Linked DNA regions of Homo sapiens. The protein of the gene in region 2 purifies or fractionates together with the protein of the main gene of each other region. This does not show direct contact. Each region holds a gene or a part of one and is shown on either strand. Other genes may lie near its edges. The genes, in order: ADPGK and SLC36A2.

Region 1 (3,818 bases), on a different chromosome or scaffold from region 2:
GAACCTGAAGAAAACCACCAGCTGAGATCTGTGAAATTCTGTAACAGTGCCATTACCTCCAAGAGTCTCTTCCTCTGGAGCTCCTTGCTTTGTCCCTCCATCATGTGCAATCCAGAGAGGACCACCAGGTCTGGCTGAAACTCCTCCAGGCTAGACACAAACACCTCCAGCATATTCATGGCCCCGTTGGAGAGGTCGTGAGAGAAGATGAATCGGTTGGCATGGGGAGCTTTTAACTGGCCCCACTCCTCCCCTGGAAAAACCCAGTCAACACAATGGGAAGAAAAGGAAGAGGCTTTAGGTCTCCTAGCTGTGGGGGCACTTTCAGGCACCTCACAGGAGCCTTGGCTCCAAGCAGGCTGGTTTCTGGCTGAGGAGACCCCAGCAACAATGGCCTAAGGTCAGCATGGCACTGCAAGAAACAAACCAAAAACCTAAACCCAAACCCAGCCAAGAAACAGAAACATAGTATGGGTGCTATATGCCTTTTTCAAGGTAATTAGCTCCCCCTGAGTCCCAGGAGAGCCCTACTTGAGCTCTCAAACACAGGAGAGACAGTACAGAATGGCAGCATGACTTCCAAATACCAGCATACAGTGTGCAGCACGCACGCCCTGCAGACAGTATAGGCTGTCATTGTTTAAAGCACATTCTTCCTCACAGCATTGCCCTGAGCATCTTTCATTCAGTTGGAACTTAAGCAGGCTGAATTTCTTCCCAACAGCCAAGCTCACTGCATCTCCTCTTCCCTGCTGCCCATCAGTGGTTTCTGGGCACCTGATCCAAAGGATCAGACTATCTAGCTGCTCCAGTTGCTTCTATGTGAGTTGCTTTAGAGGAATGACTGTTTAAAGACCCAAGTTCAAGTGCTAGTTCCTCCCTAAACATGAAGCCTTTCCTAATCCTACCACCCCTAAGCAGACTTGATTACCTCCTTTCTGGGGCCACCACTGTACCCTAATACAGGACTGAGGCACATGATTTTGCAATTCCTTTTTCTTTTTTCCTTTTTTTTTTTTTTTTTTCTTCTGAGATGGAGTTTCACTCTGTTGCCCAGGTTGGAGCGCAATGGCGCGACCTCAGCTCACTGCAACCTCTGCCTCCCAGGTTCAAGCGATTCTCCTGCCTCAGCCTCCCGAGTAGCTGGGATTACAGGTACCCGCCACCACGCCTGGCTAATTTTTGTATTTTCAGTAGAGACGGAGTTTCACCATGTTGGCCAGGCTGGTCTTAAACTCCTGACCTCAGGTGATCTGCCTGCCTTAGCCTCCCAAAGTGCTGGGATTACAGGCGTGAGCCACCATGCCCGGCCTGCAATTACTTTTTCCAAGTGTCTATCTCTGGCAGTAAACTGTGAGCTGAGGGCAGGGCCTGTGTCATCCTCTGTCGTATTCCTTCTGCATCATGCTGTGTCTGGCATATAGCCATGGGAATGAATTAACAAAAGAACAAGCAAATAAGAGAACAGACTGATGACCTAAATGCCCATGACAACAAAAAATATGGGTATGAACCCCAAATCCAACATTTTGCAAATCAACAAAGACTCTGTACGATGGGAAAAATACATTACATTGACATTCTCCAGAGAGCAAGACGTGGACTCAACCCTTGAATAGTGACACTGCTAGGAAACACGACCTAACTGAACCTAGGAGAAAGGAGCCACACTGTATTGAAAATACACTGATTTCTTCAGGAAGTGACAGAGGCAAAAATAAACAGGCTCTTCTGCAAGGCAAGGATGAGAAGAACCGTGCAGAGCTGCTTGCTGTTTCCACAGGAAACAAGGCAGCAGATGCCAAGAGAGGCTGGAACCTGAAGAAAACCACCAGCTGAGATCTGTGAAATTCTGTAACAGTGCCATTACCTCCAAGAGTCTCTTCCTCTGGAGCTCCTTGCTTTGTCCCTCCATCATGTGCAATCCAGAAAGGACCACCAGGTCTGGCTGAAACTCCTCCAGGCTAGACACAAACACCTCCAGCATATTCATGGCCCCGTTGGAGAGGCCATGCAGGGGGCAGATGCAAATGGATCTAATTCTGCCTGTAATGGTAGTTAGCGCCCCTCTTTCCTCACAAAGTGTTGTATTCATTCCTGTAAGCAATCTCTTCTCAATGTATCATCCTGCCCTCAGCCAGTAAGTCAGCAAAACCTCTGCGTAGTGACTCACTGGATTCCCAGCCCAAGCCTGACAATGGGCTTCTCTGGGGAGATCTGGTAAGAGAGAATGTGGAAAAAAAAATGGACAAATCCCTTGGAATTTCCCTATTGAGGTCAGAGACAAGCTGGGAATGGATTTCTGTTGAGAGAGCTGAGCCCAGGGCTACTGCCACTAGACTAGGCTCCCTCCTTGGACCTAGGAAAATGTCACCTCACAAAGTTTAATGGAAGTCCACTGCTTTGTATGCAGAAGAGGCATAGGAAAGAAAAACTGAAGTGTGAAGCTTATAAACCCAAGGATGGAGACACTCTCTTTGTGCGGTGAACTGTGCTGTCTCCTTAACTACATACGAGGCACAGCTGTCCAATACAACATCAAAGTCTTGCTGAAGACGTAAGACTCTCCACTCTGTAGTCACCAGGAAAAATGACAAACCAGGAATCACAAAGGTCCCCAGTTCCTGCTGTGGGTGCCAAAAAAACTGACACGAATCTGGAACTCATGGCAGCAATACCTCAGGGGCTCATCTTTAGCAATTCCAGACCCTTCCAGTCCACAGTCAGGTCATTCTTTTATTTATTTATTATTATTATTTTTTGAGACGGAGTCTCGCTCTGTTGCCCAGACTGGAGTGCAGTGGTGCAATCTCAGTTCACTGCAACCTCCGCCTCCCAGGCTCAAGCAATTCTCTGCCTCAGCCTACTGAGTAGCTGGGATTATAGGCGCCCGCCTCCACACCTGGCTAATTTTTGTATTTTTAGTAGAGACGGGGTTTCACCATCTTGGCCAGGCTGGTCTTGAACTCCTGACCTTGTGATCCACCCGCTTCAGCCTCACAAAGTTCTGGGATTACAGGCATGAGCCACCACGTGCGGCCAGGTCATCTTTTCATCCAAGCTGCTCACAATGTTTCCGCACACCAACCAATCTCTTAATCCTTACCACAATGATCAGGCAGTAAAAACTATTACTCTTACTTCCCATTTGGGAAAACTAAAGCTGAGAAACTCAAAAACTTGTGTAGCATTAAGTATGAATTGCCTACGTCAACGCTGTGTCCCTAATTTTCAGACCCTATCCTTCTTTAATTCCCAACTGATTCTAGTAAGCACCCGAAAGAGAACCAGAACATGTTACAACTCTTTTTTCTACCTGGAGAAAGGCATAATTCTCAAGAAATAACATAGTTCATATCTTATGTTAAAGTTAATTACTCTAGTAGAGAAGATTCTCTTAATTGACTTGGAAGTAGTTCACTGAAGAGTATTAAGTGCTGCTTTAAGGTACCAATTAGTCTGTTTAGATGCTTGAGTCTTTAATGTGTATTAACAATGTGTTGAATCAGAAACTCAAGAGTCTGAGTTCTGAGCAGAGGGAAAATTACAGCAGGAAATACACAGGATCAAAGTATGTCCAAGTATTTAATATTCTCTCAGAAACCAGATGCCTAATCTACGTAACATATAAAATCTGCTGGGAAGAGGGGATGGGATGCAGTGGATGTGGATTTATTAACATTAGAACATCTGATGGGAAACAATATAGTGATGTTAAATACAAAACACTTCCATTCACACACCCAAGGAAAAATAAAATGCTCCAGAGAAACTTGCCAGAAGCTTGGAATCAACCCCAAGCAGCTTGGAAGAGTCAG
Region 2 (3,818 bases):
ATTTACCATTTCTGTCGCTCTTTCTTTATTCTTGAAATCCCATTTCCTTCTGGCATCATTTCCCTTCAGCATGAAGAACCTTCATTAACATTTCTTTTAAAGCAGGTCTACTAGTGACAAATTATCTTCATTTTCTTGATCTGAGATTGTCTTTATTTTGCCTTTATTCCTAGAGGATATTTTTGCACAATATGGAATTCTAGGTGGACAATTTTTTTCATCATTTTGAAAATATGACTTCCTTTCTTTTTGCCCTCAGTGGTTTCTGATGAGAAATCTGCAATTGTTTGAATCCTTGTTCTCCTATGTGTTTTTCTCTGGTTGCTTTCATAACTTTTTAAAATCTTCTTTAATCAGCAGTTATACTGTATTATATTTAATATAGTTTCTTTGAGTTTGCCCTCTACGAGATTTCTTGAATCTGTAAAAGTTTGTCTTTTACCTAATTTACCTAATTTCAGCCATTATTTTTTTCAAAGGTTTTTTCTTCACCAATCTCTTTTTCTTCTCCATCGGAGATCCCAATAACCTGAATGCTAGACTTTTTGATATATAGTCATCGCTTAGCATATATAGGACATTGGTTCCAGGACCCCGCTCCCCCACCCCCCTAAACACACACACCCAGTGTATAACCAATCTGTGCCTACTCAAGTCCTGCAGGTGGCCCTGCAGAACCTGAGTATATGAAAAGTCAGCCCTCCATACATACAGGTTTTGCAGCCCATGAATACTGCAGTTTTGATGTGCATTTGGTTGAAAATATCCACCTATTTGAGGGCCTGCGCGGTTCAAACCCATGTTGTTCAAGAGTCAACTGTATATCCCACAGGTTTCTGAGGCTCTATTCATTTTTTTAAAAAAATCTCTTTGCTCTTTGTTGTTCAGATTTTGTCATTCCTGTTTATCCTCAAATTTACTGAGTTTGTTTTCTGTTATCTACATTCCGCTATCAAGCCCCTACAGTCAGTTATTTAAATTTTTCTTATTTTCCAGTTATAATATTTCCATTTGTTTCTTTTACATTGTGTCTACTTTGCTAAGAACTTGTATCTGTCCATTTATTTTAATAGCGTTCTCCCTTACTTTTTGGAGTACGGTTATATTACCTGCTTTAAAGTCTTTGCCTAATATTGCCAACATTTGAGTCATCTTAAGGTTGGCATCTGTTGTCTTTTCTCTTGAAAGTTGATGAGATTTTTCTGGTTCTTTGTAGGCTGAATAATTTTAAACTGTATCCTATGCATTTTGAATATTATTTTAGGAGACTCTTCAGAATGCTGATTTTTGGTTTTAGCAAACCATCTACCTAGTTAGATTCAGCTCATAAGTCCTTGCTCACCTTCTGTGGGCCATGGTTCCAATATCCAGTTAGTTTTCAAAGCCCATGAAGTGATATTTGGCTCTACCCTGCTCATGTGCTACACAGTGCCAATTGGCAGACAGGACTCTACACAGTAGTTCAGTTTTCAAAGCCTTTGCTTTGATGCTTCCCATCAGTTCCACATATGTACAGCTCAGGGCTGGGCCCAGGATATTATTCACAGATTTTAGGAGATTGCTTTTTCCAGTTTCCTCTTCTCTGTGTTTTCCCGCACACTCGCCAGCTCGCAGTGGGTTCTTTTTCCCATCCTCTGGCTAGAAATCTAGGCTTTTAGCCTCCTACACTGTCATGTACTTCCTGTGACCAAGTCTGCCTCTGGGGTTGAGCAATGAGTGAAAAGAGAAAGAAAAAGCACAATAGTGATTCTTTCCTGGACCAGTTTCGTGAGCAGGCAAATCATGCAGCCACATAGGGTCCAACCTTCAGAAGAATCTCACACTTAGTTTAACACTCTGCTGGAACCATCTTTCACCAAGGAACCCTGCATTTTCATTTTGTACTGGGGCCCATAAATTAGGTAGCCAGTACTGATTTCCCACACTCTTCAGACTCCTAAAGCCAATTTTCCTAGTACTTCTGTGTAGAGATAAGGATTTCTATCTCAGATTTTTAGGTGCCTGTGTGACCACTACAGCCACTGATACACCAGAATGCTGCTTAGTGACTAGGACTTGCCTTGAGGTCATGGCCTGGAGATAAAACAAAGAAACAGAAAAATAGAGATTCTCTCCACGCTCTTCATCCCACAGGGGACCCTATTCTAAGTCATCTGTCCAAAAAGAAGTTTCTCTTGGTGTTATTTTCTGTCTGTATGCACCGCATAGTTCTAAGATTTGGGTGTCCCTTGAGGTTAAAAACTAGGATGTATGGGAAGAAGAAAATCAGGAAACTCACCACCATGACAGTCATTTTTTCTTTTTGATTTCCTTCCCCATTCTGCCTGCTACTATTTACTCTTCAGGACCTGTGCATAATTGCTTTATGTATTTCATCCACGATTTTTAGTTGTATTAGTGAAAGAGATATTGTGAAGTGTGCTTACTTCATCTAGATGGAACTGGAAGCACTTTGTTTTTAGAATTTGGAATAGTCATGGACAAAAGCAGAGTGCAGCAGTTGAGCAGGTAACTTTGGAGGCAGAATGTGCTGGAATCTTGCTTTGGCCAGGGCTACTCTCTGAACTCTAATTCTCCACCTCTAAACTGATGACAATATTTGTTCAGTAAGTATTTCTTGAATGCCTATTATGTGCTTGTGATTCTTAGTATTAGTTGAAATTATCTTAAGAAGAACTCTGCTAGCCCAGTCTCCAATTTTACAGAAGAGGGAGAGCCCCAGAGAGAGAAGGTGACTTCAGTTAGATCACCAGCTAGGAACTGTGCAGATGTGAATAAAACCTAGTACGTCTGACTCTCCATCCAGGGACCTTCCCACTGTACGTCAACAGCCATTTATCTCTTTGACTGACTGATTGTGGAGAGAGAGAGAGAGAGAAAGAAAGGAAGCCAGCTACCCAGTCTGAGCAGGCCTTGTGAAAAGATCATTTTTGGCCTTGAGAATATATGCAGCAAAATTGTGTTACAGGGTGCAAGAGCTCAGGTTGGATTGTCTGCTCTCCATACAATTATTGTATAATCATCAAACATCCTCCTGAGCACCTGCTGCAACGAGACCTAATCCAGAAGAAAGTGGAAAGGCATGGGGAGGACCCAACATGACACTGCCCTCAAGCATCTTCCAAATGCCTGGAATAGAGAGAGGGTTAGGGAGTTTCAGGGCTGGAAGTTTGCATGTACGACAGAAAAGAATTCAACAGTACAAGGGAAAAGATGCTAAATTCCTTAGTAACAAATATACCCATTGCTATAGGAGTAGAAGCAGGTACTTGGACTTTGGATAACAGCCCTGGTCTACAACCTGAATCTGACACTTTCTGGTTCTGCAACTTGGGATCAGTTATCTCATTTTCAGAGCCTTGTTTTCCTCATCTGTAAAACAAGAATTATGGAGGTACCGACTTCATAGAGTTACGGTCTTCACAGTATTAAAAAATAACAACCGCCAACATTTACTAAGCCCTTAACTGTGCCATTATGGTGCTTGTGTAATTCTCTACAAAATTTGCAAAATTCAGCCACATGTGATGTCTCTCGCCTGTAATCCCAGCACTTTGGGAGGCCGATGTGGGAGGATCGCTTGAGCCCAAGAGTTCAAGACCAGTGTGAGCAACATGGCAAAACTCTGTTTCTACAAAAAAAATACAAAAATCAGCCGGGCATGGCAGCACATGCCTATAGTCCCAGCTCCTCAGGAGGCTGAGATGGGAGGGATCTCTTGAGCTCGGGAGGCAGAGGTTGCAGTGAACTGTGATTGTACTACTGCACTCCAGCCTGGGTGACAGAGTGAGACTCTCCAAAAAAGAAAAAAAAAAAAA

Evidence for each region.
Region 1: the proteins of SLC36A2 (region 2) and ADPGK purify together in Homo sapiens (affinity purification with mass spectrometry; one large-scale study listed by BioGRID and IntAct). This does not show direct contact.

What each region holds. Positions count from the first base shown.
Region 1 is NC_000015.10:72,756,195-72,760,012, forward strand, and holds part of ADPGK (ADP-dependent glucokinase isoform 4 precursor), read right to left. Parts: intron 2,096-3,818; coding exon of another isoform or gene 1,871-2,095; intron 254-1,870; coding exon 57-253; intron 1-56. UniProt on the Homo sapiens protein: Catalyzes the phosphorylation of D-glucose to D-glucose 6-phosphate using ADP as the phosphate donor. GDP and CDP can replace ADP, but with reduced efficiency.
Region 2 is NC_000005.10:151,326,813-151,330,630, reverse strand, and holds part of SLC36A2 (proton-coupled amino acid transporter 2), read left to right. Parts: intron 1-3,818. UniProt on the Homo sapiens protein: Electrogenic proton/amino acid symporter with a high selectivity for the small side chains amino acids glycine, alanine and proline, where both L- and D-enantiomers are transported.